5 linked regions of the Homo sapiens genome follow. The protein of the gene in region 1 interacts with the protein of each later gene in a pairwise test. Each region holds a gene or a part of one and is shown on either strand. Other genes may lie near its edges. The genes, in order: RASSF5, RASSF4, HIPK1, RAP1B and RAP2B.

Region 1 (6,612 bases):
CTCTCCTCCCTGCTTCCTGTCTTATCAAAAGATGAAAGTGAAAGGATTAAATGTGCGCTTAATTTTCCCCACTATTCATCAGAGCATGAAATTTTCTGATTATGGAGTGTGGGGGGCTTGAATCCCAGGTACAGTCAAAAATGATTAATGCCACTTGTCTGCCAGCCTAATTAGACTTGGTAATGAACGTGTGTGTTTGCCTGCTGATCCTGCGGAGTTATTAGGTGGAAGTGAATTGACATCTCCCCGCAGCACTGAGGGTTTGGTCTGATATCCTCTCTCTTCTCCCCAATTCTACCGGCGAGCCAGCCTGTGCCAAGCCTGGCAGGTAGTCCCTGAGTGACAAAGAAAAGACAGCCCCCAGCCCAGTCCCAAGGGCCCTGCCTCGGTGGGAGAGTGAATTTATCCTGTCAGGGAGCTACCTCCTGTGAAGTGTGAGCAGGTCAGGGGCCAGAGGCTCAGGGGAAGCTGCCGCAAGGCCGAACCCAGGTCTGAGAATGGGCATAAGAAGAATTCTTTGCATGTCAGTAGTGCCTTTTCTCTGAAGAGCCCAAAGTGTTTTCATGCCCGCTGCTACATTCATGCTCAAAATAGTTTCATGAGGTCAGAATACAGGGATACAGGGATGCTTAGCTCAGCTGAAAGGGAATTACCTGGCCAGGAGTCACCTGCTGGCTTTGCCAGGGACAGTGGTAAAGTTAGAACCTCTCGGGCGGGCCTCATTCTGACAGGTCTTCAAGGCTTTGGTGCTGTCTCAGGCCCTCAAGCCATTTCCCCCGCTTTGGGCTTCAGAGTCAGCACCTCTGTGTGAGAGGCTGCTACCTGAGGTGGGATGGCCATGGGTGGGTCCCAGCTCCTGCACCCCAGTGTTCTCCCACAGGGTTCTCTCTGGCTCCCACACCCACCCCTCATTCCTCAGTTTCCCCATGGAGGGCAGCTGCTGGCATTCTTGCTCTGCCCAGGCTTACTATGAAGGCTGCTGAGGAACCTGTAAACACATCTCTGGCCTCACCAGAGGCCCTTCCTGTTCGCATTCCTCAGATGGCAAGGTGAGTATTCTTGGGTGGGTGAGTATTTGTGGGTGTGCAAAGCATGCAAGCTCCCCACCCCCAGCCCTTCTGAGGGAACCATGTTCCTGGGGCTCAGTCAGCACCAGCTGGTATGATTTCCTTCTCACAAGCTTGCAGACCTGGGTCTGTGCTGGTGGCAGGATGCTTTCTGCCTCCCTGCAGGGTCTCGCTCTGTCTCTGCTGACTCTGGGCACCTGCCCCTCCCGCAGGGCTCTGTTCTGACTCTCCATGGCTGGGTGGGGAAGGGCTGGCGGCAGCTGGGAAGGCCGGGCCTGACTGGGGAGATGGTTTTGCATTTAGTCATTTTCAGTTTTTTTCCAAGACTTTTGGCAAGCCTTTCTCCACATGTTCCGGGCTGGATCTCAGGGTCGGAAGGGGAACAGAGCCAGTTTTGGGGCTTAGGGGAAACAGCGAGGAGGCTGAGGTGATGACGTTAGACCAGGCAGAAGGCTGGGTTCCCTGGGGGCACTGGTTTAAGTGGAATAAAGTCGGGGCTTGGGAGCAGTCATGGGTTGCCCCACCCCAAGGTCAAGACTATCTTGACTCACACCTGGGGAAGTGACTTTTGAGTTTTTTCTGAAGCACTCATAACTATGCTGAGGAGACTTGGGCAGAGCCTGGTAGACCCCAAGAACTCTCCATGGTGTGGTCTTTGGCTGAAGTGGCCCACAAGGCCATGCCGGGCCTGTTCTAGCATGCCTGTGGTTCCTAGAGTACACAAAGGTTTGTGAGAGATGTACCCATTGGGAAATCTTTGAGGTTTGATTCTCTTTTTTTACCCTTTTTGGAGAGGAAGGAGGAAGGGCAGTGGGGTCCCTCCTGGCATCATAGCATGTGTCCAGCCTCCCAGGGGAGAATGCCCCACTTTGGCTGAGGAGTCTGGTGACCCCTGGGAATTGTAGCAGGTTCTAGATTTTCTTTCGGATTTTCCTACCTATAACTACTGCCCTGGCCCCATTTGAGGGCATGGGGCAGAGGGATCGGGGGGAATGCAAGATGTGCATGCTGAGGGTCTATAAGAGGGGTGGTGTTGGAAAGAGTAGTCTGTTCATTTTTGTGTGGCACTGAGCAGGTGAGTGGATGGCTGAGTATGACACTTACCTGTGACAGGTTTATTCTTCAGTGGAGGGCCTATGTGCCACCTTCTGCTCCCCATTCCTGTTTTTTGAACAAACATATTTCCAGGGTGGGGCAGGTCTTATTTAGACATCTGCAATGGCCATTGGCTGGGGCTGCTAGAAAATTAAAACTTGGCTTACATAGACCTTTAAGAAATCAGACTCCAGGTTCATGAAAGTCAGGCCAAAAAGAAGAGTGATGTTCTTATTTTTTTAAAATCCTTTTATGTTTTGTTTCTACTGGATGCTAGAGCTGGAAAAGAATTATCATTGTGTTTGCTGAAGATACAAGCTGGCATTCTGTGAACCTGCTAGGATGAGTATATTCACATGGAATAGGAAGAGTTGAGAATGGCAAAGAAACTGTGGGAGCAGAAATAACTTTTGTTGCACTTGGCTATCACTAAGGCCGTTTGATGTGCACTGCCTCTGTCAGGATTGCAATTCTGTTTCGTCGGTAGAACTGATGTAATCAGGGCCATCTCATAGATGAGGAAACACAGCATTCAGGGAAGTCAAATGACTTCGCTAAGATAACCCAGATCATTAATAGCAAAGCCAGCACCAGAACCCAGCATGGCATTTTGCCTTAGGCTAATATCATTGATCACGCAAGTTAGTTGAGTTTACTTATCCATCTGCTGCCCTTCTGCTGGTGAATGCTGAAATGTCCAAAAAAGGAGGTACAGGAAAAAAAGGGAGGTGAGCCCTATACAAGCTAGAGAATCAGCCAGGGCTGGGTAATTGAGAGTTGGCTCCACTTAAGCCAATTTTCAACAATCAGTTTCTAAATTGATTGTCACCATGTGCAAATCATGAGATCTTTAGAAAAAGGGTGAAGTTTTTCCAAATCCTAAGATGAAAGAAATAAGTGTGTCTCTCCCCGCTCCCACCTCACCCCGTAGGTGTTCAGGGTGTGTAGGGGGTGGGCCTGGAAATGCAGGTGGAGGATCTTTTTCTGTTCCAGTCCTCCTTCTTGCCATGGCCCAGCTCTCAGAGTTCATGACACAGCACTAGTCAGGAACCAAAGTGAAATTAACAGACTGGATCCTAGAGGGGACAGCTAGGGTGAAGAAGACATGGATAGGGACTGGACAATAATCTGAAGCTGCCTAATGGACCTCTGGCTCTAATCTCAGGCAGTGATGTGGCCCCATGAGAAAAAATACATCTGGGGAAACCTCCCACCCCCAAGCCAGCTCTGACTCTCTATATTTCTCCAGGTTCATCTCTTATTTGGGAACAGGTACCATTGCTTACTTTTCTTGCTGATTTGCAGGAGGCTGTTTTTTCTATCCAAGTTGAATGGAAGTTGGAGACTTGGTGGTCTCTGCTGAAAGAATTATGTGGATTATTTTTTGCATCTGAAGAAAGTATTAACCTCCCCCACCTCAAACAAAACCTCAGAGATGCCTTATTATTCAACTGGAACAGATTCCAGCTGTAACATGAGAGTTTTGAGAGAAAGCGTTGAGCATATTGTCCATGAATGTCTACCCTAGTGATGAGTGTTTTTTAAAAGCCATCTGGAGGTACCTTTATATAAAATAGGGTGATAATATATTGTACCCCAGCAAGTAAGATGGTGAAGGTTGTTGCTTCAAATTATGCTGGGCCATGGCTGAACTTGCCTCCAGCATGGAGGTCATTGAGTCATTGCTTAGATGTCAGAGACAGCAAGAGGTCATTGCAGGCATTTCCCTGTCTCTAGGTAGTGCTCCTCCCAGACCATCATTACAGTAGAAAAATCTATCTAGTTTTCCAAAGGTCAGGAATGAAGATCCTAGAGCTTCTGAAAGCCCCATCTCCAGACTCTGCCAGTTCTTTCCTGTTGTCTTTCCCAATGGCTTAACCTGTCAAAGAACAGCTCAGTGATGAGGAGAAAAGAGAAGTGAGGTCAGCATATTCTGCAGCCCAAACGGTGCATTCGGAAGGGATTTCCCCGCATTACACGTGACTTTTTTTTTTTTGAGATGGAGTCTCGTTCTGTCGCCCAGACTGGAGTGCAGTGGTGCAATCTCGGCTGACCGCAACCTCTGCCTCCTGGGTTCAAGTGATTCTCCTGCCTCAGCCTCTTGAGTAGCTGGGACTACAGGTGCGTGCCACCACACCCGGATAATTTTTTTGTATTTTTAGTAGAGATGGGGATTCACCGTGTTAGCCAGGATGGTCTCAATCTCCTGACCTTGTGATCCGCCTGCCTCGGCCTCCCAAAGCGCTGGGATTACGGGCATCAGCCACCACGCCTGGCCGTGACTCATATTTTAAAGTTCCCCCAGCAGCCCTGTGTTCTCTTCTTTGAGGGCGGGGATGGGAATGAGCCCTTGCCTGTGCTCAGCCAGGCAGGACTTCCTAGGCCCTCTTGGAGATCTTGGGTGCAAGGACCAGCAGGGCAAGGAACTTGGCCCCCACCCCTTGTTTGATGGTCCCAAGTGTCATTTCAGGACCCGGACTTGCTTATGCCCTTCTTCTGGTACAGAGGTTGCTTGGTAAACTAGAGAGGGCCACAACAAAGGCCATGGGCAGCTCCCTTCTCCCTGAGGAAGCATTAGGGAGAAAGAATCAGTCCGCAACTGAGGAAGGGTGGCATCTGAGCACAGACGTATAAGTGCATCTTCCACCAGAGATTCTGCAAGTGTGTGAGTCCTCTGAGGTGGATTTCCTCTGGTTAAGGGATAGGTGTCCCTGCTGGGCATGGAGGCTTCACCCCTGTAATCCCAGCACTTTGGGAGACTGAGGCAGGATGATCTCTTGAGCCCAGGAGTTCGAGACCAGCCTGGGGAACATGGTGAGACCCCCACCTCTACAAAAAATATAAAAATTAGCTGGGTGTGGTGGTGCCCACCTGTAGTCCCAGCTACATGCTGGGGGGTGGGAGAATCACTTGAGCCCAGGAGGTCGAGGCTGCAGTGAGCTATGATTGGACCATTGCACTCCAACCTGGATGACAGAGCAAGATCCTGTCTCAAAAAAAAAGAAAAAAGAACAAGTGTCCCTCCTTCATGTTAAGCTGGTCCCCGCTGGTGGTTGGCAGGTGAGTCCTGTCATCTCTGGGCAGCCTGGGAGGGACACCCCTCTCTAGTGGCTTTTCTGGAAGGCTCTGCTGCCTGTCTGGTGCCAGTCTTCTGTCTTGGACTGGGCAACAGGGCCTCCCAGAACTTTTCTACTAGGGCTTGGCAGCTTCTGGGAGTCAGAGTGAGAGAACACCTGTGAGTACTGTTTTGGGGCAAGAGAACAATATTTCTGCCCTTTTGTGACAGACTGATCTTTTCTCACCACCCCACACCCATAGGGTCACATCCGCTTCTGCTCAGGTATCTAGTCTCAGAAAAATGAATGGCCTGACCCTCTTAAAGCAACACCACCTCCTTATGGGCCCCTCCCCCACCCTGGGCTTAGCATGGGAGGATGTGAATTAGCCCCAGTTTGTCCCTTAGGAGCCTGTACAGCTGGTGAAGCATTAGTAATCCACCATCCCCAAAGAAATCCATTAACGAGCTCCTGGGCTGGGCACGTGGTGTGAGGTAACCGATCACTTCTGTCGTCTGAAACTTTGGAGACATTGATTTTCAGACTCACAGGCGCGACTGAGAAGTGAGGCTCGGGGCAGGCTCTTCCCTGCAGCCTGTTTGGTGGGGGCATTTTTATCTTATCAAGCTAAAAGCCCCAGGAATAGAAAGTTTTCCACTGGGGGAGGTGGAGGGGAAAGGACCTCAGTGCGGAGACAGAAGGCATCGTCAGTCGTTGAGGGTACCAGAGCCTGAGGGTCCAGGTGACTGTCCAGGTCATGCGAGGCCCAGGGCCCTCCCCGGAGCCCTCCCCCACCCGGCACTCCACCCCTGACGCCAAGCCTGGAGAAAAGCTATTGATCTCTGGCGCTGAGATGACCGAGGGCCAGGAGGAGAAGGCAACCGCTGCCTGCTTTGGGACAGTCACTGCTCAGCTCCAGCGGCTCTTCTGCAGGCTCCCGAAGAGCCGCTCGGTCTCCAAAAAGCACCAGATCCTGCAGAGGTTCCGCAACGGGGCCCGGAGGGCTCGGGGTAGGTCTAAGCCAATCTGACTGGGGGAGCTTGGGTTCTGAGGCCTCTGCTACTGGCTTCTCCCATAGAAAAGGAGTACAGGATCTTTCTGGCAGTCTGCTGTTTAGTGCTGAGCTCAGCACCACTCCTTGGCCCTCCTGACTCCGCAAGGACAAAGGCACAGGTGCTGTCACCTTGCCTGGTATGGGTTGAACAGCCAGATCCAAAGGACATGGTCTGCCTGTTTTGGAGGCCTTGAGTGGGTAGTGGATTTTAACAACTTTTTATTGGCTGAGAATTAGGGCCAAGCGGTCGTCTTAATCAGGGTCCCTGAGCTGGCAGAATATGGGTATCTCGGATGGCCACTGTTTTCCATTCTGCCTATCCTGTAGCCCTTCAGACCCT
Region 2 (5,907 bases), on another chromosome or scaffold:
TCAGGCTCCACCCTAGTCCCCAGGGCATGCACAGAAATGAAGGAGTCATGTCGGCTCCTAGAGCAGCGAGTTGTGGCTCTTCTGCCAAACATGGCCACACATCCTTTAGGATAAGAGTTTCAGAAGTTAGAGCCGGGGGTCAGGGTGGATGCACAGAAAGCAAAAAAAAAAAAAAAAGCTTGGTTCTCACTTCTTCAGTTCAATACAGCACACCTTTATTGAGCACCTAAGGATCTATGCTGCCAGAGGAGGGCAGAGTCGACAAAACAGTGGGCAGGCCTCCCCTGCAGCTCTCTGTGTCTGTGATGATGGAGCTGGGTTGGGGAAATCCTGCTGTGACATTTGCCCTGACGCAGTTCCGCACAGCATGGTGGCTTCCAAGCTATGCTCTTGATGGGCACCCGTAAGGAGCTTCTACATGCATTAGAGATGGAGCCTCTCCTATCTTTGCAAGCCTTTGTGGTTCTTCCCTTTAAATCTGCCATCCACGGACCTCAACAGGAGAATAATTTGGTCTTCAGTTTGCTCTGTTTTAGACAAATACTTCACATGACTGATGTAAACTGTTGCATAGTTTCGCAAAGGCTTTCTCATTCATTCCTGAAATTCTCCATCAGTCACAAACACAAATTGTTCAGTATCTGGGGAATTCAAAGCCCTTTCCTCAAAACAGACATTTCTCCTTATCATTCTTCCTTCAGGGGAAGTATTGAAAGTCATTGAAAGTCATCCCCACCCACTAGAGGAGAGAAACGCAAGCCCAGAAAAGGCAAGAGGTACACAGGCATCCACGGGACAGTGGTGATGGGGCTGAGCACTGCCTTCCAGAGCTGCTGCTGGGCATTGAGCGGGCAGCACCCTCTCAATGCCATGTGGACCCTCCTCAATGTGATTGAATGACCGTGTTTCTTGCAGCAAGCTCCTTGTAAGAATCGCTTTAGGTCTCTCTGATGAAGTAAAGATTGATTTCTGCAGAGAAAGTGAGATACTTGTGGCCTTATTCCTGGTCTCACCTCTGTGTTGGGGCTGAGCTGTGCGAGGCTCACAGGGTGATATTGGAGGCTTAGAAGCCGGGGACACTGTGGCAAGGTGATGGCTGAAAGCAGGCTAGATCTCATACCTGCTGGCAGGCCCTGCTTTTCCCAGCAGCATTCCTGTGGGGCAGCGTGATATGAGGGCAGACAAGAATCTCATATGAAGGAAGAGGACAGGGGCTTGTGGACCCACAGGGGCTCTGGGACAGGCAATGTGCAAGCAGATGAAGCCTAAGCCGCAGGGGCTGGGCCAGCACTGCTCTCCAGTGCAGGAGAGGCATGGTGTGGACAGGGCTGGCCACACAGATCTGACCCAGCAAGTTCCTGGCCCCTCAGGCCTGGGTCGGCTTCCTGTGGGTGCTCATCTTGGAGCCAAGAGCTGGCTGTGGGAATCATGGTGCTCAGGCTTCAGAGAGGTAGACACACAGGCACTCGATTCGTCAGGCGGTGGCCATCAGTCAATGTGACCGGCCGGGGCCAGCAACCAGGGCTCAGTGTACACCTGCCACTGCTGGGGACTTTGGAAGAGGCAGGTGTTGGCCAGTTACTTGGCCTCCACCAGCTGCTCCAGGCGCTGCAGCATCGTCAGACGCAGGGCTTGGAACCTGGAGGGAGACATCGCCAAGAGGACTCACTGAGGCCAGACAGGGCAGGGAGGTGGGCAGCAGAGCAAGGGACCTGCAGATGGCCAGCTCAGGAGATCCCTGCAGCAGCCTCATCTCTCCTCTGCCAAGGAGGGGGAAGGCTGTGGCCTGCGCCTCATGAGGTGCAGTCAAACCAGGCTGTGGACTGCACAGAGCATCAGAGCAGAGTGTTGTCATTTCTATTGCAGACTCTAATACAGACAACAGCACACTGGAGTGGACAGGGCGGTAGAGCAGAGATCGGGAAGCCCATGTTTCAGCCCAGATTCTGCCATAACCTATGCGGCAACCTTCCTTGTGCTGGGCCTCAGCGTCCACTCTGTACGTTGAGTGGACCCACTAGTTGCCCCCCAGATCCCTTTCAGCTCTCAAATCTTACGGGGTCAGGACTGACTGCAGAATGGAAGATTCCCTCTGACTTTGGTCTCCTCTGCCTGTTTGGGGTCTGGCTGCACAGACAGGAGCCTGTGGAGGATGTGGCTTTCCACGGGTCATTCAACCAGAGGCTAACATCCATCCTTTCCCCACACACCCCAGGCCCTCTCAGTGAGCTCCTGCCCTTTCCTTCCTAGCTGCCTCCCCACCAGCCCTGGTGGGGTGCCCTCCACAAGTCCTGGACCACACTTCACTTTGCTGAGGGGGAGACGTCATTGGGACTACAGCCTGGCTAACTCATGCATCCGGACCCTGGCGTGGTGTCCCCAGGAGCTGGCAGGTGAGACCTGCTCACCTTTTCATTGAACTAGCCCTCTGCACCTGAAAACATCGGCTGAGGCTGGGAGTTCCAGCATCTGCCACTTTGGGGAAGGCTCAGAATTCCCACTAGGACAAAAGGCCCTAATCAGGCCAAGTCTGCCTCAGCATGCCTGCTCCTTGGAGCCACATCACCAGCAGAACTCAGAAGCTTGACCCAGCGCCCACTTGGGTTCCTGCCTGACTTTCCTGCCAGGTGTTCTGCAGCTCATGCCTGCGCTGGTGAGGATGCCAAGACTGGATGGGTGATCGGGGCTGTGTCCCACTGTTTTGGCAAGCTGTCACCCCAGCGTGGTGGCAATACCGAGCAGGGGGCCAGAGGGTGATGCTGGGGAGCTAGGGTTAGCAGGCCTTCCCGTACCAGGGTACTGGTGCCCATGGAGGAGAGAGACCTCCCAGCCGGCACTGGTGCTGTGCTTTGCAGACCTGCCCTGATGTTCAGGACCCATGACTGTCTGTTTAAGTGCTGCTTACTTCATGGTCAGTTTGATTATTTCTCTTTCTTCCTCTTCTTTTAATTTTTCAACAAAACTGTCCAGCACCGGCATTTCAAACTTAATGTACTGAGCGACCTAGAAAATCCAAGAACATTTTAATGTGCTTTAAATTCGAAGCCAAAAGTATGTTTTCTTTTCCTCAAGGCTTCCATAGTGGCCCATCCAGCCAACATCTTGTATCCACAGAAGGAGCTGCCGCTTTTCCCACCCCACCCCCACACTGCTGTGTTGTGTACAGATGCCAGGACGGGAGCCTATTACTATCTCAAAGGCAACTGTTATCCCTGGGAGGAAATATTAAACTGAATATTAGGAAGAGCATTCAGTACAGCAGCATTGTCACATTGGGTGCCCTCTGGGCTAGGGGGTAGGGAGGTGGGAGCACCATTGTTTCTAACAATGGAATGCAATTGCAGCAGCCTGAGGGATACGGGGTCACTAGGCCTCCTACTTGAGGTTCAAACCCTGTAAGCATCTTCTATGCAGAGGAGTTTGGAAATGCACTCACTGTCTGGTCAGAACTCAGGCTGTTGGTAAGACTTAAATATCTCCCTGTTTTCCACAGGTGCGAGGTAGGGCCTAGTTAAAAAGCCTTTGCATAGGTCTCTCACATAATGACAACAAAATACATTCCAATGAAGGAAAAGACTTTACTTCCCTAGAGGAAAAGGACAGGCCATGGTTTTATAGGACCCAAATTCTTCTTTCCCCTAAGCTGCTGGTGCTGGCGGTCACTGATGGGAGAGGGAGGGCTGGCGCCTCCCTGTGCTAGGCTGGGAGCCCTTTGGGAGAGTGTGGAGCTCCTGGAGACATCAACTGACAGGGCTCTGGCCAGGAGTCCTTGGGAGGCCCCGTCACCCAAGAACCCCTCACCCTAGAGCAGGCCTCCCCAGCCTTGGCCCCCACTCACTTCATGGGGGACTTCCACGCCCAAGTCAGCTTCCATCAGGAAGATCCTGGCGATCTTCTCACATGGCCCATGCAGGATTCTGGAAATCAGCGGGTACTCGCAGTCTTTTAATTTTGTCCGCTCTGAAAAAGAAGGTGGTTTACAAAAATCACGGGAGATTAGGATCACCTCTGTCTGTTCCAGATTAGGAACTGATAGAAAATGTGCGTCTAGGGGCGCAGGGAACCCTAAGAACACAGACCTCGCTAACAGCGCTGCCCTGAGAGATTCCTGCTCATGCAGAAGGGAGGCAGAACAGGGCCCCCAGATCTGCCACTTTGGCATAAGGATTAAGTGGAGCGGCTGGCAATTGAGAAGAAGAAGATACAAGTGAGGCTCTTTGCCCTCCCCTATTTGCCAAAAAGCAGGACATAAATTTGTCAAGGTGTGCCCCCGTCCCTCTCTAGGCAATGATGGAGTTAATCACCAGAGACAACCCGAGCCCCTCCTCAGCCTGGAGAGGGCACCAGAGGAACCTGCACAGCACGTCCCGCTGAAGCCCTTCCCTTCCCGCAGCTCCCCGTGCGGTGACCTTCCCACCCTTCGCCTCCCCAGAAACTCAGGCCCTTCTCCTCTGTCTTGTCACTTCTCTAAAAACTTACTGCTCTTTTGTGAATATGCTATTTAAGCCCAAATTCTGACCATTCATCCCTGGATATTCCAAAGGGCATGCATGATGCAAGTGTTAACAAACTTCTGTTTGTTCTTCTCCTTAATCTGTCTTTTGTTAATCTAAATACAGGGCCCCAGCCAGTGAACCTAAATGGGTAGAAAGAGAAGATAATTTTCCTCCCCTACAGTGTCATTCAGCAAAGGTGCAGCTTGAAGAGAAACAAGATCTGAGGGGTGGGAGAAAGGAAAGCTGAGACGGGAGGGCCAGGGCCTGATGCACTGCGACACGCACCCCACCCTTCCTGACTCGGCGCCAAGGAGCTAGGTACCCACCCATCCATTTCTCTGGAAGAGGCGGAGAGGGAGGCTTCCTATAGCTTGGTGGGATTCTCCTTCAGAATCCTGAAAGAATTAAACTTAATGTACTGAGCGACCTAGAAAATCCAAGGACATTTTAATGTGCTTTAAATTCGAAGCCAAAAGTATGTTTTCTTTTCCTCAAGGCTTCCATAGTGTGCCTGGGTTTGGGTGGGGGAGAAATGTTCATGCTGGGAGGCACAGTGTGCCCTAGCCCACTAGGCAAGCCAGCACGGAGCCCATCTGGAAGGGAGTACAGTCAGTGGTTGGTGGGGAGGGGGCTTGCTGAACAGGTAGAGACCTTTTGCTTTTACGATCCAGAAGTGGGGCAGGTACTTACCCCCAGACTCGTGAACGATGTAGAGTGCGAACTCACTGGGGCCATCTTCCACCTGCACAGGCAGTCACAGGAAGTCAGATCACGGTGCTTGGAGATGGGAGAGAACTGAGAGGGTCCCCTGACAGTAACTACACCCCCAGTAACACACACGCAAGTTGCAAGGAACCTGTCCTCTCCCAACCTCCTCTTGCTTGAAATCCGAGAAACCAAAGCTCAGCAGAGGGACCCTTGCTAGACCTTCTGCCCAGGCAGCTTCTGCCACGGGCAGCTTTCCCCAGAACCCCACCCCCAACAGAATAGCAGACCACTGGCATCCTGGGGCAAGGCTGCTCCTGACCAGGCTTACCCTAAATTTGTTCAGCAGCAGGGTGAGCACCTGCAGGGTTGTCATGGTGCTGTTGACCCTCACATTGGTCACGGATCCATAGGCTGGAGTAAACACGGAGGTCTGTACCAGGAAGGGAGAGAAGTTCAGGTCAGGCCCAGAGGGGACAAGGGACTGACATCACAACGGTGAACAGACCAAGGCAGCAGGTGACGCTGAGATCTGGGAACACCTGCACCTGTCCATTCACGCTGATGCACACATAAGCTGTTCCCAGACCTGGGAGACACTCCGGGAAGCTGTAGTAGTGCACTCCTTCCAGAGGCCTAAGGAAGATGTCTACACACCCAGAAGGGCCAGCTCTCTGGACCCGAGGAACCAGGGCCATGGAAGTCA
Region 3 (6,612 bases), about 93 Mb from region 1:
GACTCAACAGGCTTTGGTTCCTTCTCTATATTCTTCACCAGCTAAGAAACCTTTCTGTGAGTTCCTTGTCACCAGCGGCACCACAAAACTTCTCCTCATAGTATGGGGACATGGTAAGCAATACAACAGGCTCTTTGGTATAAACACATCTGTTAACATGTTTTTTTCAACAAGCAAATATTTTACTAGGAATGTCAACTATGTGCAGGAAGGACTGCCACATGGGAAAAGGAAAAAAAAATTCATTCTAAAAGTGATTGCACATACTTTAAAAGAATGCATATTTAATATTGGCTTGACTCCTCTCACCTGCTTCCTGAATTCTCACAGAAGCAAGGTAGCAACGCACAGTGAGAGAGCCACATGGGGAAAATGCTTCTGTGAGAACTCAGCCGAGAATCCAAAATGGAAAGGGGTAGAGGTGGTGGTAAAGGAGAAAAGCTGCTGTTTTTATTTTTCAATGTTGGCAGGGAAACTGAGAACAATGCATTACACAATACAGCTACTAATCCTGTTCTGATAAATCCCGGTGAACAACTTAGGGTCCACGGGGGCTTGCTGGTCCATCCTAAGGCAAGCTCACTGTAAACTCTATTAACCACTACATTATCATATAAGGCACTACAATAAGGGAAGGAGGAAGAAAGGGAAGGAAGAGACACACACTGAAAAACTCCTCACCAGACACACCTGTGCAAAACAATTCCAAGGGTCTCCTCTCCTTGCAGGCAATGCCCCTGCTCATTCAGCACTACAGTAATATGCTCTAATATAATTGCAATTAGTTCACATACATTCCAACAAGTATCAGTTCATTTTGGTTTAAATACAATGGAGACATCAATCCATCTCCGGGATAACACTGGAGGATCACATACACACTAAGTACACAATTCAAGTGTAATCACTACACATTTGATTACAAATAACATTTTGGGTTAGCAGGAAAAATTGCTTGTTATATTTTTCTAATCAATATGTACATATTTAATTATGTAAAATATTAAAACACCACCATTACAAAACTTCTAAAATATTTTTAAATTCAGTAATAAATTTTTAAAATATTTTTTGCAATTCCTACATGCACTTATTATATAAGTCTTAATAAGAGAGCATTCAATTTGCTGCTGGCATACAAAGGAAGCTACTTTGAAGTATAAAAGCTATACACAAGAAATGTTCTTATCTGGTTTCAGGTTTTTTTAGCTTTCTCCCCAAACAAATCACATAAAACAGAAGGGAGAGATGAGCAAAACAGAGGTGTATTACTGAAAATTCATACTAATCTTTAGGCAAAGCTCATCAATGCCAGTATCTCATAATAGACAGAGATTTTGCATATAATAAAACCACCACCACCATGTAATAATAACCACCTTAATGGCTTTTTCGATAAAAAAATTTAAGCTGAATCAGAGAGAGAAAGACTTTTAAAAAATAATTTAAAAAAGAATTCATGGTGCTTCATTTAAAAAGAATACTTGGTGTTTTCACGCAGATATGGATTCTCTCACATTAAGTTACCAGCAAATGGTGAGCTGCCTTTTAAACACTACTTTATAACAAACACAGGAGCAATTGAGAGAATCTCAATAGTAACACAGAGTAATACGTAACCAGTTTTGCAAAAATAACAATTGCCCATTAAGTATAATATGACATTAAAACAAAACTGAAACTCTGTAAGTTTAAATGTCCAATAAACAAAAGGGAGATTGTGTAAGCCGCTTTTAAAATAAAATAGGCAAGTCTGAGTTTATAAACAAACAAAAAGTAATTTTTCTTTTTTTGTCATCAGATTTCAACTCCTTCTATCAGCATTTTTCCTGACCAGCAATCACAATAACACAAAATGAAATAAAGAGGGGCTTCACTTGTTTTTAAAAGCATTTATAGAAATCAAGTCAGAGAGACAAAATATTTTTCAGAGGGTAACTTCAGAACAATCTCTCTTCCTTGGTAACTGCAGAAGATGGGCATCTGAACTCTTCCAAGTACCAAAATTACTGTCACAAAAATAATGAATTTAAAAATAGGGCAAACTTTGGGAAGACTACAACAATGCAGTCAACACTGAGACAGGTTCCCCCAGAGAAAAACCTTCTGCTTCAGTGGGCCCCTGCAGAACAAGTTGCTGGCTAAGAAATTTCAAGAGGGTAAAGGAGGATCTCTCCATAGCCCAATATTAAGAACGCAGGGCCAGGAGAAGGTAGCCATGATTCCTCCTCCCTCATGCTCACCAACTATAAGTAGGAATACTGGCTGATCTTGGTAGGACTCAGCGGGTATCCAGTGTAAATTGTTGAGCCTCGGGAAGACCCAATGTAGGATTGGGTGGCAAACTGGTGTTGGTACTGAGCAGGGGCCACGCTGGCAGAAGTGAGGAGGCTGGGCCCAACACTGACAGGGACCTGGTGCACCAAAGTGCTAGGGTGAGTGGTATAGGCTGCAGCATGCCTTGAGGAACCCTGTGGGGAGAAAAGATGAGCAATGGAGCTGGTTGAGCCCAGTGCAGCAGCAGAAGTCGGGGCAGCATACGTATACAGATGAGCCTGGCTTGGCAGGTGAGCAGGGGCCGGGGCAAGGTGTGGGTGCCCTGTCGAGTGTAGCGGGCTGCCATGCTGGAAGGTGTAGGGGGCTTGGGAGAGAGGGGCCACAAACGCCTGCTGCCTGCGGGGGGCTGGGTTGCTGCTTCTCTCCTGTGAGGTTGGAGCCGCCGATGACTGCTGGTTCTGGAAGAAAGAAGGAAGAAGTGAGGAATCCTGAGGTCACTCCAGCTCAGGGCACCAAAGGCCAAGTTAAGAGCTCAGGTTCTGACTTGTACTGTTTTCGAATGGGTATAGCACATAATCTCCCACACTGGCATTGAATGCTGTCAGAAATCAGCCACCCCTCCTTCTGCCTCTTAGCAAGATAGATCCTAATCTGGCTCAGGTAACAGCATTTTGCTTGTAAGTATGACAGGAAGAGGGAGAATCAAGAGATCATAGGGTTCCCCACTCCTGCAAGTTAATAACTGGTGACTCAACTCACCCTATTCTGGCGTCAGTAAATTTGAATTTTTCCTAGCCTTTATTTCTTACCATTGCTTTCTTTTGTTTTCGTCCTCTAAGTTCTTCATACCCCTCTTGAAATGTGGAAACTAAAATACATGCACTAACTCAAACTTACATTTTCACTTGCATGTGCTCTCTCTCACATACCCTCATACTGACACTTTCTCACTACTGGTGGACATCATACAAGCACTCGAATTTTAGCTTCTAAGAGTGAACACAAATAGAATAAAGTAATGAGAGAAGCAGAAGGGTAGGTTGGGGCTGGGGGTGTTCGGAGAGTGGGGAAGTCCCAAATCGCAGACTCCAGCAACAAGTAGGACCTAGAACCAGTTGAATTTGGTGGCCAATGAGCTTTTCACAATCTCTTGACTCAAGTAAACAATGTAAGGATCAGCTTACTTATGGCCTGGGGGATAAAGAGAATCTGGTCTCAAAGCATATGCCTATCACAGACATGGTTAAAGCACCCCAGGCTCTTTCTAAATCCCAGACGTTTCTCTAACCTTCCAGGGTAGACTTAGGGAGGTCTGATGGAAAACCTAGAATGTACATCCTGAACACACTTACAGAGTGAATGAAGAGACACAGCATATGCGGTACGACGTAAGCCATAGAACACAAAATTGTTTGACACAAAAGGGGCTTCATTTGGCTTTATTCAGCATCCAGCCAGAAGCAGGGTTCTCCAGAAAGTAACAACAGTGCAGGGCCCAAACAGAAGGCAGTAGCCCATAGCACTTACCTGGCTAAGATTGAGTGGTTGTGCTGCACTGGTCCCCCCGCGTTGAGCTCGATACCCTGTGGGGGTGATACAGCATCCAGATGACTGCCCACTCACTGAAGCGACTGGCTTAGTCTTATTGCTCAGGAGACCTAAAAAAGCACCAGGCTTAATAGTTATGAGTAGACATCACTGAGCTAACCTCAGATGGCATCATATTAATTAGTCCACATCTGTATGTAGTTTGCAAGCATTAAGGTCTCAATTCTATTTACATCAGAAGAAAATAACCTGTTATCACCCATTTCTTTTCTGTCTTGGCACAAATCTCCACATAGGATCCTCAAAATGTTCACTTAAATAAATATTATAAATATTTTAACTATAATCTCTTGTTATATACAAGGAACGACTGGAAATACAAATATGCTAAGACACCATCCCTCTCTCCAAGAGTTTATAGTTTTATGTAGGAAGGGATTAAACAAGCACAGAAATGATAATGTGAAGCTGAGAAAGCTATTGGTAATTCTTAGGATATTAAAGTGGCAAGAGGGTTTAAAAGAAGGCAAAATTCTATCTTGTTGGACACTTACTGTCTTCAAATTCTTAGAAATTACAGGACAGCTGAATGTGAAATTTTGCTTGCTTCTGTGTTCCCATTAGGAAAACCAGAGCATTTATTCAGTGTCTCATGTGATAGCCTATATTCTCTGGACCCAAGAGCACACGGAGGTACTAATAATTCTATTCAGTAGCCTGGCATCAGGAAGCTCTCTCTCTTGTCTGCAATGGGACAACTGTCTACTTCTGAAAAGAATCACACAGAGGCATAACACAATACCCTCAAATTACAACCCTGTTTATGTCTATGGCAGTAAGATAATACATAATAAAACATAATTTATACAAGTATGGCCCAGGTTTATGTTGACACCTAAACTTCACCAACCCCTTCCTTGGTATGAAGTTGTCACTGAAAAGCAGCTGCCTTAACAAGACTACATTGCCTGGGCTCACTTGCATCTAGGTGGGGCCATGTGAGAAGCATTCACTATTTCCACTTATTTCCAGCCTAAAGAGGTTAAGACATGTGTGTGCCTCCTTCACACTTTCTTTCTCCTTCTGACTGGATGCTCAGGAATCAAACACTTGTACCAAGAAATTATATGAGAGAGAAGTAAAATTCTACTATGTTATGCTACAAAAATCTAGGATTTGTTACTGCAACTGCTATTACCCAACTAACACAATAACTAAACCAGGGAGCTTAAGTCCAGTATCTAACAGGGCAAAGATGATGGAAGTAATTGGGTTGGTAATAAAACCATCAAAAGCATCACTGCTATGACACTGGGTGAGAAAAAAATCTAAAGAATATAACTGTTTTCCAAAACACTTTTGCAGTCATTTTCAATATTATCAAGTCCTGTCTACATCTCAATTGCCAAATTCAAATCATCTGTGGCAAACCTAATTGCCTGCTAATTCTTCTTGCAATATCACACGTCTTGTCTGCTTTCTCCCATCAGCACTGAATGTGTTTCTGAGACTACAATCTCATTTGTATATTAATCCAAGCAAAATAAACACAGGAAGATAAAGTGATGGCCAAAAATAATTTCACATTGTGCAGGGAACTGATTTCTGAATTAAGGTCTCTTTAAGAATGTCTACACCACTGGTCTCTACCACTGATATAAGTGGATTATGGCAAAATATTTAAGCATTCACACATCAAAGGAGAATTCAACTCAAGCTGTGAAGATAACACTGACCTGAGGCCTGGGTTGCTACAGTGCAGTCACCAAGCTGAGTTTTCAGTGGAGGCACAATGATAGTGCGGGTGCCAGTGCCATCTGCCACAACTCTGCCAGGCCCCTCCAAAACGGATCCACTATTGCCTCGGAGAGCACTCAGGGTATCAGTGGAATAAGGGCTGCTCAAAGAAGAGTCAGAGTCTGGAGAATCATTGACAGTGACATAACTGATGACATTAGACCTTGGCTTCAGTCCAGAGCTGAGGAAAAGAAAAATACATGAAAATTGAATTGTTCTTTTTTGTGTGTGTGACAGCGTCTTGTTCTGTCACCCAGGCTGGAGTGCAGTGGAGTGATCACAGCTCGCTGCGACCTCAACCTCCTGGGCTCAAGCTATCCTCCCATCTTAGCCTCCCGAGTAGCTGGGACTACAGGTGTGTACCACCATGCCCAACTGTTTTTATCTTTTGTAGTGATGAGATGTCACTATGTTTCGCAGGCTGGTCTCAAATTCCTGGGCTCAAGTGATCTTCCTGCTTTGGCCTCCCAAAGTGCTAGGATTGCAGGCATGAGCCACCATGCCGAGCTTCAACCACCCTTTTAAGCAATGTTTCTTAGATGATCTGTCTCTGGTTCTCCCATGATAACAATGATGATAAAGATGGTAATAATAATAGTAATATTAGCAGCAGTAAACTTCTGGGTACTTATGTATCAGGCACTACTCTCATGCTCCACATACATCTCACTGAATCCTTACAACAATCCTATGAAGTAGGTACTATAAACCCCATTTTGCAGATGAGGAAACTAAGGAATAGGGAGATGAGGAACTTGCCCAGGGTCACACAAGAAGTGATGAGTGGTGAAGACAGGATTCAGACCCAGGACAGAATGACTTCAGAGTCCACACCTCTAACACCTCCTGTATGTTGCCTCTACCATCTTACAATTGGTCCTTTTGAACTAACAGGCTCTAAATTCATTCTAAATTTTCTCTTCCAAGTTCACTTAAACTTCATTTCTGCATGACTCTGTAAAGTCTCCTAAGTTACTTTCATGTGTGAAT
Region 4 (6,612 bases), on another chromosome or scaffold:
CGCCTGCCACCATGCCCAGCTAGTTTTTTGTATTTTTAGTAGAGACAGGGTTTCACCATGTTAGCCAGGATGGTCTCGATCTCCTGACCTTGTGATCCGCCTGCCTCAGCCTCCCAAAGTGCTGGGATTTTAAAGGCAAGAAATACATTAGATTCTAACATTATTAATTTAGGTGCCCCTTCAGAGTCTACCATAATGGAGTTTAATTCCTCATCACACTAAATATAGCAGTGGTTCTCAAAATTGATTTTGCATCAGAATCACCTGTAGGACCAGTTAAAACAGATTGCTGGGCTGAGATCTCAGAGCTTCTGATTCAGTAGGTCAGCAGTAGGACCCAGGAATTTGCATTTCTAACAAGTTTCGAAGTGGTGTTGGTTTTGCTGATCTGCATACTGTAAGAACCAGGCTGGGCATGGTGGCTCACACCTCTAATCCCAGCACTTTGGGAGGCCAAGGCGGGTAGATCCCCTGAGCTCAGGAGTTCAAGACCTCCCTGGGCAACATAGCAAAACCCTGCCTTTACCAGAAATTTAAAAAAAAAAAAATTAGCCAGCATGGTGGCGCGTGCCTGTGGTCTCAGCTATTTGGGAGGCTGAGGTGGGAGGATCACTTAAGCCTGGGAGGTGGAGGTTGGCAGTGAGCTGAGATCACATCACTGCACTCCATCTAGGGTGACATAGTGAGACCCTGTCTCAAAATAAATACATAAATAAGACTCATTGTACTGCAGTTTAATTTTAGCAAATATTGTGAGAGCTGGGAGACACCCATGGTAAATGCTTTTATTTTCTGGACTTCTGAAACAAGGGAATTTGGGGGGACCCTACATAATTACAGCAACCTCAGGGAACATTTTTTAATTTGTAAATCCATTTAATAAGTGGCTTGATTTTTAGTAAATTTTGATTGGCTTTTTTTTTTTTTTTTTTGAGACGGAGTCTCACCCTGTCGCCCAGGCTGGAGTGCAATGGCACGATCTCAGCTCACTGCAACCTCTGCCTCCCAAGTTCAAGCAATTCTCCTGTGTCAGCCTCCCAAGTAGCTGGAATTACAGGCGTGTGTCACCATACCCAGCTAATTTTTGTGTTTTTAGTAGAAACAGGGTTTCGCCATGTTGGCCAGGCTGGTCTCCAACTCCTGACCTCAGGTGATCCACCCGCCTCGGCCTCCCAAAGTGCTGGGATTACAGGCGTGAGCCACTGTGCCTGGCCTTGATTGACTTTTTTAATACAAGACTATGAGAAACTAAAAATTCTATTTTGGGAGCCTTCCGTCCATTATGATAAAATTTTAAGGTTTTTTCCCCCCATCTCTCATAACAGGATCATAGCTTGTTTTCTCAAAAGTTTATGTAAAAGTGTCTTATTTATGTCTACATTGACTAGGTTGTGTTCATTTTACTTAACATATGAGAGTTTTCTTTCTCTCTTTTCTTCCCTTTGGAGTTATCGTTTGCATCTCCATGAAAAGAGAAGGCAGTGGAGATAATTGACATCAAAGTTAATACTTATGTTTATGTTACAGATTAAATTGTTAAGGCTGTAAATTTTATTATACATTATTTAATATTTTTTGTGGCATATGAAAAGTAATTCTTAGATTTGACTCTTAGAATTCTTTTGATTTGAATTCATATAGCATATTTACTTATTTATTTTTACTCTCACAAATGTATTTTTAGGTTCCAATGATTCTTGTTGGTAATAAGTGTGACTTGGAAGATGAAAGAGTTGTAGGGAAGGAACAAGGTCAAAATCTAGCAAGACAATGGAACAACTGTGCATTCTTAGAATCTTCTGCAAAATCAAAAATAAATGTTAATGAGGTATGGTCAAATATACTTAAAATGGGTCTTCATTTGAAGTACAACATTGAAGATGAATGGAAAATGTCTTAACCCCAAGTTAATATGTACTCAGGGTAATATGTTGATGTTACAGGCAAAAAAAAAAAACCCTCATGTTAAATGTATCTATGTAGTAAATAAACAATACTATTTCAGTCTCTATTAAATACTTGTACATTGATATTTACCATGAAAAAGGAAGACTGGACAGAAAATACATGGATAGGGAAGACAGATTAAGACTTCAGGTATATGAAGGATGTTATATGAAAAATAGAGTAAAATTCCGAAAAGTATGCATGGTTCTTGAAAGGCTCCAAGTCATGTTGTAGAGCAAAAACTTACAGTTTTTAAAAGGATTTTTTCTTTGTGTGATGGTAAATGTTCTAATTGAACTAAGTTAAGATCTCTGCAGCTCCTTCAACTAAGTATTTTAAGGAGCACAATATTAACACTCCCCAAAAATTTGAGCTTGGCAGTTATAACACCTGATTTTATTCTCATTCCTTAGCTGAACAATTCTGGGCATTAATTTATATCCATGGAAATTTCTGTTTTTTCAATTTACTTTTTTCATTGGGGGGGATAGGTGTTCCTCCTGTAAATTAAAACAAATTATTGTATTTGCAGATCTTTTATGACCTAGTGCGGCAAATTAACAGAAAAACTCCAGTGCCTGGGAAGGCTCGCAAAAAGTCATCATGTCAGCTGCTTTAATATACTAAATGCATTGTAGCTCTGAGCCAGGTATGTTCACTTATCTTTCCTCTAACTTTTAATCACTCAACCTTATTAAGGGCACTCTGTCATGAAAGCAAGTATAGACTTCTTTTTGTTGGTTCTGAAAAATAAATGGTTTATTTTTATAAGATATCCATGAGTTAGTATGCTATCTTATTAATTATTTACTTATCATCATGAGTAAAGTATTTCACATAAGTATTCTTTTTTTGAGATGGAGTTTCACTCTGTCACCCAGGCTGGAGTGCAGTGGCGCAATATCAGCTCCCTGCAACCTCCGCCTCCCAGGTTCAAGCAATGCTTCTGCCTCAGCCTCCCGAGTAGCTGGGATTACAGGCACGTGCCACCACGCCCGGCTAGTTTTTTTGTATTTTTAGTAGAGATGGTGTTTCACCATTGTTGGCCAGGATGGTCTCAATCTCTTGACCTCGTGATCTGCCCACCTCGGCCTCCCAAAGTGCTGAGATTACAGGCGTGAGCCACCACTCCCAGCCAACCCCGTCCCTAATTTAAAACACACACACACACACACACACACACACACACACACACACACACACACGTGCGCGCGTGCGCGTGAGCCACCGCTCCCAGCCAACCGTCCCTAATTTAAAACACACACACACACACACACCCCTGACATGTTCATCATGTGCCAGTCACACACACACACACACCCCTGACATGTTCATCATGTGCCACTTTTTTTTTTTTCCTTCAACTTTTAAGTTCCAGGATACATGTGCAGGATGTGCAGGTTTGTTACATAGGTAAAGGTGTACCATGGGGTTTGCTGCACAGATCTTGCATCGGTACCTGGCACATAGTTAACACTCAACTATTAGCTGCTGCTGTTTGCCAATGATAATGGTTTCCTCTTCAGCTGTCATTAAACTGTTTATTGTTAAACTGTTAATTTATTCTTAAGAACCTTTGACATTCCTGACTCTTATTTCTTCCTATGTTAATTGACTCAGTGCTGCCATAGCACTTTGATTCTGCATCTTTTCAGAGTTTTTATTCCTGCCTTCCATCTAGGGCTTTCTGTTTAGTGGTATATCCTCTCATTCTAATATCCTATAATTCCTGACCACATGCCCATTCTTAGCAGCACACATGTGCTTGAGCTCACACACTTCCATCTGTCCTTTTTAATTTGCAACAGTCTGCCAGGATTTAGAAAACTTGATTGCAAACCTCATTCAGACTCAGAATGAGGACCTAAAGTTCTAGGCATTTGTGAAAATTATTTCAACAGCCACATATGTATTAACAACTCTTCTGGAGCTTGTAACAAGTCTGATCACCAGAAAAATATAATAGGGAACATTTTTTTAGCCGAGGCATGTATGCAGAAAACTATTCAAAGTACATATTTAACAATTCTAAGTTTACTTTTTAAAATCTTTAATTACATGTGATTTTAGTGTAATACCACCTTTTTCTGACATCAGTCTTAATAGAATGTTTAAATATGGAATTAGAAATTATATAACGTGATTGTAAATCTGTAAAACACCATCATGAAATAAATTCTATTTGTCTGCTCTGAACGAGCTTTTTAGCCACTTTCATTGAAAGAGTGAGGAAGAACTTGATTATCTGATACTAGAAACCTTGGTTAGATGTGCATTCTATACTTATGATCTAATTCTAGGAGTACATTACGATTGTGTAAACACAGGATCACCCAGTTTGTTAATATTGCTATCTGACTTTTCAATCCTAATTCTAATAAGGTTGACTTGACTAACAATTTTAATGTGATTTTTTTCCTTTTTAATCCTTGGAAGGTAATGCACAAAAATTTGCACAAAGGTACTTTCCCTTTCTGTTCCTAAGATTTTCATTTAACTGACTTTCAAGAGGGCAGCAGAATAGACTTCATCTTTTTGGAATGAAAAGGTCTGCCGTGAATTGTGGTATGTTGCCACTAATGTAATGCCTAGAACAAGAGCCTAGATTATATTCATTTCTAACACTTTTAAGACTGTTTTCTTAACTGTTTGCTTTTGGGTCTTTACTTTTTCTAGCCCATGTTTTTAATTAATTTTTTTCCTTTTGACAGGTCTGAAGAACTGTTGCCCAATTCAACAGTGCCAGCATTCCAACTTTGTTAAACCTACCAACATCTTAAATGGACTTTCCTGTGGTGGTACCCTTTAAGAGGCGGATGAAAGCTACTATATCAGTTTGCACATTCTAATCACTTTCCAGTATCACAAGAGAGATTTTTACTTATATAATAGTCCTAGAGTTTGCAGCTGGTAAAACCAGAGGCTACATCCAGTATTACTGCTAAGAGACATTCTTCATCCACCAATGTTGTACATGTATGAAAATGGTGTACTGTATACTTTAACATGCCCCATACTTTGTATTGGAGAGTACAATAATGTAAATCCTAAAAGCACCACTATTTTAGCATAATAAAAGAAAGTCCAAAGAGCTCCTATATAGACTACTCCAGATAACTTCGCTTCTTTGATACTTGTAGCTTATTGTAATTTTTTTTAAGAAATTCAAGGTCATTATTATTGTACAAAATAAGCGCTTTGATTAACACAGCTATATAGTTTTTTTAATTTTTAAAAAACCTGTGGAGACGGTGATCTTGTCTTTAAAACATGATAGTCCTTTCAGTATAATGTCTTAGATTAAAGACGTTGCCTTTAATATCTGTTGGGAAGGAAATGTCCAGACTTTTCAAATCTCTTATTATATGTTTCCTTTTTTTGTTTACATAGGGAACAATGTTTATAGTCGTGTGTACAGTGGGGGTCTACAACAAGAAGTGTATATTTTCAAACAATTTTTTAATGATTTAACAATTTTTGTAAATCATTTTCAGGCTTCTGCAGCTGTAGATTCTCACTGTGAATCCCTTGCTTGCTCATGCATAAGTGTATTTGCAATACCAAATATACAGGTTTAGTATTTTTGCCTGTTAGTGATTGTTTCACATGTGTAACGTTTTGGTTGAGATGTTAAATGGTGGACGAGTACTGTGGATGTGAATGTGGGAAGTAATTTTAATCATATGTAATTGGTCACAAGGCCTAATTTGCAGTAACTATTGCTGTTTTATTTAACAATGCCTTGTTGCTTTGTATGCATTAATGTTTGGATGTAAAGATTGTGTGTCTATCCAACAGGGAGCCACAGTATTTAAATTGACCAACCTAATGTTACAACTACTTTGAGGTGGCCAAATGTAAACTAAAAGCCTTAATTAAAGTGGTGCAATTTTGTATAACTTAGCATCAGTAGTTCAATAAATTTGGATTGCCATGCAAGGGCTTGCATTATAATTACTTGCCACTTGAATGTGTTTTGTGTAATGTTTTAACAGTGCTAGTAAATAAATACGGGTTTACCCTGGTTTTAATTGTAATAGGTGCATTTTACACAGCATGGTTTCATAATTTAACATCTGGGCAAGCCAGACTCATTAATTACAGGAATAAGGAAGTAGCGAGTTTTCTGGTATTGTTTGAATATCCACATAACCACCTTTTGAACTTTTCCTTGAGAAATAATTTTGTAAATCAAGCAGTATTACTTACGAATAAATGCCTTTGGGTAATGTTCAGTAGCTATTTGATGAGGTAGGTAAAAGAGGAACGATTTAACATACTTTCATGGATGTTACACTATGGATTTTTTAAAATACAGGATTGAAGTTAGAATATTGTGGTTATAAAAATCTTTGAGTGATGTGGATTAAGCACTTAGAGAATCGATATTTTTCTTAAATATGCTATAATTGAATTCTGTAAGAACTGAATTCTTATAGAATTATTTTAAAACTTTTTAAAAATTGTAAAGCTCTTAAAAAACTTTTTGAAAGTATTTGCCAGCTACTGGAGCAATTAATCAGTGATAATATCTAATAGAGGGGTATCTGCTAATCCCCTAAATACACGCTGTTTGAATGATACATTTTTAAAGGCTTTCATGTTAAGAAAAAGTCTGATTCTTTACAAAAGGGACTTGTTTTGGCAGAACTGGTTTTATTTATA
Region 5 (3,931 bases), on another chromosome or scaffold:
AGAACTATATTTAGTTCTGAGCTCTCAGCCTAAATGCCTCTTATTTTTTCACTTTTACTTCAAAACGCCAGGGTTGGGGAAGTGGGAGGCAGAGGGTGGGGGAGCAACGGAGAAAGAACAGCTGTGCCTCCGCCTCTCCGCTCAATCTCTATAAATAACCAATCGCGAGCGGAGGCTACTTTTTAGCCAATGAAGCGCCCCAAACTGATAAAGCCTTGGCGGCAGCCAATGAACAACACTTAGGGGTGTCAGACTCGCGCCCCGAGACCAATGAGTGCAGAGTCTGGGAGAGGTAATTTGAGCTAGAGTGTGGGTGTGTGGTGCAAAAGCTTCCTACTTCCAAGCCCAAAAACCTGCTCTGCGACTGAGCATGCCCTGAACTAACTGCGGGCGCCCTGAGACTTCTGGATTGGGATGTAATCCGGTCTCCGGGTTTTGACCGCACTCGAGCGGGGAGGTGGGTACGACCCGCGGGACCCTGCCCCGAGAGAGCTGCAGGTACCAGAAGCTACCCCTTTCCTAGTCGGAACAGTATCTCAGACTTGGAGTACCTCCTGTTTTCTTTGTGCAAGGCTGCAGTGCACAGAGTCGGTCAGAGAAGACAGAGTAGCGTTTCTGTGGCGAACGGTTTAGAAAAATCTATGGGGCAGGTTTGCTCCGCCGGCTGCTCGTGCATTCCACGGCACCCACAGGACTTCGGGTTTCCGGCCCCCAGACCCACGCCCGCCCGGGGCTGAGTGAATGGCGTCCTTGGGCCTTTGATAACGGGAGTTGGCAAGACCACAGCCTACTCCATCCCTGAGGCGGCCCGCCGCGCCCACGTGCTTCTCGCAGAGCCGCCGCCCTTGTCCACCACTCCCACAGCTGTAAAATAAAGCGGCCTGCATGCTTCCTACAGCGCTTTCCTCGCTCCCATATACGCACACACACCCCATCTTCCAGCCAGTTCCTAACTCGCGCCACTCCCCAAATCGGACTCAAATCCGGAGCCCCGCCCACTGCCCCGCCCCCTCCCGGCCCCGCGGAAAACCAGGAGCGGCCGCTTGGGCAAGGCGCGGCCGGAACGCACTGGGCATGCTCGCCGGGGAGGGGCGGGCCGGGCTGCGCGCGGCGAGTAGGAAGCCCTCGCCCAGTAGAGGCTGTGGGAGAGAGCGCGATGGGCCGCGGCGGTGGGCGCACGTTCCGCGGGGACTCATGCCACGCGCGTCCCGGCCCGACGCGCAATTAGCAGCCACCTCCGCAGCCCGCCGCCACCGCCTCCCTGCCCTCCCGGGCTGCCGCAGCTAGGAGCTCCAGCCGTCGCCTCGCGCAGGCTGCGGGCATTGTCCTCTCGGTTCGCCGCCCGGGCTGCTGCTGCCGCCGCGGACTGCTGCGGGGCCCGGACCCGCACCCCAGGGATACGCTGCCGCCGCCGCCGGCCGGCCCGGCGCCCGGCCTCCGTTCGGTGGTTTCCGCCCTGCGTTCTCTGGGTTGCTCTCTCCTGGGTTTTTCCTGCGTAGCTGAGGAAGGGGAAGAGAAGTCCAGCCGCCAAGCCCAGCCTTCCCCGGCGCGCAGCCCCGACGGGGCCGCGGCAGGCGCGGCGAGAGCGCTGACGGAGCCATGAGAGAGTACAAAGTGGTGGTGCTGGGCTCGGGCGGCGTGGGCAAGTCCGCGCTCACCGTGCAGTTCGTGACGGGCTCCTTCATCGAGAAGTACGACCCGACCATCGAAGACTTTTACCGCAAGGAGATTGAGGTGGACTCGTCGCCGTCGGTGCTGGAGATCCTGGATACGGCGGGCACCGAGCAGTTCGCGTCCATGCGGGACCTGTACATCAAGAACGGCCAGGGCTTCATCCTGGTCTACAGCCTCGTCAACCAGCAGAGCTTCCAGGACATCAAGCCCATGCGGGACCAGATCATCCGCGTGAAGCGGTACGAGCGCGTGCCCATGATCCTGGTGGGCAACAAGGTGGACCTGGAGGGTGAGCGCGAGGTCTCGTACGGGGAGGGCAAGGCCCTGGCTGAGGAGTGGAGCTGCCCCTTCATGGAGACGTCGGCCAAAAACAAAGCCTCGGTAGACGAGCTATTTGCCGAGATCGTGCGGCAGATGAACTACGCGGCGCAGCCCAACGGCGATGAGGGCTGCTGCTCGGCCTGCGTGATCCTCTGAGGCGGCCACCGCGCGCCGGCCGCGCTCTGCGCACAAAAGCCAAACGCATCCGACTCTCTAAATGTGATTTATTTCTTGCTTTGAGATTGGAGACCACTTTGCATTGGCCAGGGTGTCTTGGGAGCCCGGCTGGCCTCCGCGGCCGGCGTCCCCTGCCTCCACCCTGTGCCCGAGGGGGTGTCCGGTCCTGCCCATCCGATACTCTGGTGGAAATGTGGCTCTTTGCAGCATGTACGTTTCTCCCTGATTTTGGTTGATGCATATTTCCCCGTTTAAGTAGCCGTTAGGGCGCAGTATCGGCAGCTTGACACCCACCAAGCAAAAGTTTCAGCCTGGAAAAAAAATGGGGGGGAAGGGTGGATGAAAAGGAGGGAGAGAAGGTGGAAATGGTTTTTTTTTTTTTTTTTCTATTTTCTTTCTTTTTTTTTTTTTTTTTTTTTGGTCAACAGCCGTTTTTCTAGTTCCAAGTTTTAAATACATGGAAGGAAGTCCGGGAGAACCATATGAAGGAGCAGGAGGAGAGGAAGAAACTTTTTTTCCTTCTTTTCCAGGAGTAGCTGGAAATTAAGATCGGGTTCCTTTTCTGCCAGCTTGGAAGGGCAACCCCATGACTGATTGCGATTCTGAGGATGTCTATGCAAAGTTGGATTCTTGTTACAGTGTATCCAATCTGAAGTATTGCACATCTGAACTGGGACTGTTAACACTGATGCCAATACAGTGTGGGGTGCCAGAAAGTGTCTGCTGATATTTGTGGAAAAAAAATCTATTTTGTTTACCTACTGTATCAAAGGGGAGTCTGGGGGAGAATGGTAGTATTTTTTTTTTTTATCAGCTGTGAAAAAAATGTTACAGATCTGCACATTTTCGTGTGTACTATGGTGTGTGTGTGTATGTGTGTGGTGTGTGTGTGTTTTAAGTTTAGCCTTTTGTTTTTGTTTTTTGGTTGGCAGTAACCGATTTTAATGACTAGCTTTTAAAAATACAGTACAAAGACTTTGTAAATGTGATTCAGGGCCCCCAGCACCCCTGTGTCTGCAGAGTGCCTTCAAAACTCAGCTGTTCCAGCCGGTGCCAACCTGTGAACTTCCCACCATATCCCAGAATCTGCTATTCCCCAAACCACTTCCCAGTTTCCTTTCAGTAATCTTTCTGAAGGAGCCAGGACAATAGGGCCTGTTGTTTAGTGAATTTCTTTATTATTTTCAGCCTTTAAAATGTAATTTCCATCTCTTGCAATGAATTTGTTTCCCTTTTTTTTGCTTCATTTTGTTTAAATTTTCAGGTATTTAGCTCCCCTTTCATATTATTTTTAAATTTTTTAATTACCTGTTGTAGGGTGTTCCTCCAGAAGCAAAGAGCAAAATTTTACTGTTGTGATGTACCAATTCTAACTAATTGTAATTTTTAATTTCATGCGTTTAATCATTGTCTCTTCATTTTAAGACTTTTAATACAAATGTCATTTTTAAAGAAACAAACCCAAAACTATTGTTTGTGTTTCTGTGTTTCATATTCAGTGATTTAATACAGTATCATGGCTGAGGTGGATGGGGCAGGTGCATGATACTCTTCAGAGCTATTTGTGAAATTTTAAAGACAGAAGTGTCTCAGTGACAAGTTGGATGACACTACTCCCAACTTTTTAAATTTGGAGAAAACCATCAAGGTCGAGGAAGCCCTGGGTATGGCCATTACCATCTGATTAGAAGATGAACAGGTATTTTGAATCTGATCTGACATGGAACAGTTTACCTCATTGTAGGTAGGGAACAAGAGA

The links.
Region 2: the proteins of RASSF5 (region 1) and RASSF4 interact in a two-hybrid assay, tested with the Homo sapiens proteins (one study listed by IntAct).
Region 3: the proteins of RASSF5 (region 1) and HIPK1 interact in a two-hybrid assay, tested with the Homo sapiens proteins (one study listed by BioGRID).
Region 4: the proteins of RASSF5 (region 1) and RAP1B interact in binary tests that used the Homo sapiens proteins (3 or more experiments, as listed by UniProt).
Region 5: the proteins of RASSF5 (region 1) and RAP2B interact in binary tests that used the Homo sapiens proteins (3 or more experiments, as listed by UniProt).

The regions. Positions count from the first base shown.
Region 1 is NC_000001.11:206,512,317-206,518,928, forward strand, and holds part of RASSF5 (ras association domain-containing protein 5), read left to right. Parts: intron 1-6,612. UniProt on the Homo sapiens protein: Potential tumor suppressor. Seems to be involved in lymphocyte adhesion by linking RAP1A activation upon T-cell receptor or chemokine stimulation to integrin activation.
Region 2 is NC_000010.11:44,989,001-44,994,907, reverse strand, and holds part of RASSF4 (ras association domain-containing protein 4), read right to left. Parts: intron 5,635-5,907; coding exon 5,533-5,634; intron 5,239-5,532; coding exon 5,187-5,238; intron 3,961-5,186; coding exon 3,839-3,960; intron 3,004-3,838; coding exon 2,906-3,003; intron 1,640-2,905; coding exon 1,579-1,639; 3' UTR 873-1,578; coding exon of another isoform or gene 737-872; 3' UTR 104-736; coding exon of another isoform or gene 1-103. Other genes in the region: uncharacterized protein LOC124902530, read right to left, coding at 1-103, 737-872. UniProt on the Homo sapiens protein: Potential tumor suppressor. May act as a KRAS effector protein. May promote apoptosis and cell cycle arrest.
Region 3 is NC_000001.11:113,969,147-113,975,758, reverse strand, and holds part of HIPK1 (homeodomain-interacting protein kinase 1), read right to left. Parts: intron 5,804-6,612; coding exon 5,562-5,803; intron 3,936-5,561; coding exon 3,805-3,935; coding exon of another isoform or gene 3,721-3,804; exon of another isoform or gene 3,701-3,720; intron 2,736-3,700; coding exon 2,247-2,735; 3' UTR 1-2,246.
Region 4 is NC_000012.12:68,654,622-68,661,233, forward strand, and holds part of RAP1B (ras-related protein Rap-1b isoform 1 precursor), read left to right. Parts: intron 1-1,684; coding exon 1,685-1,828; intron 1,829-2,479; coding exon 2,480-2,566; 3' UTR 2,567-2,596; intron 2,597-4,658; 3' UTR 4,659-6,612. UniProt on the Homo sapiens protein: GTP-binding protein that possesses intrinsic GTPase activity. Contributes to the polarizing activity of KRIT1 and CDH5 in the establishment and maintenance of correct endothelial cell polarity and vascular lumen.
Region 5 is NC_000003.12:153,161,095-153,165,025, forward strand, and holds the start of RAP2B (ras-related protein Rap-2b), read left to right. Parts: upstream 1-1,131; 5' UTR 1,132-1,599; coding exon 1,600-2,151; 3' UTR 2,152-3,931. UniProt on the Homo sapiens protein: Small GTP-binding protein which cycles between a GDP-bound inactive and a GTP-bound active form. Involved in EGFR and CHRM3 signaling pathways through stimulation of PLCE1.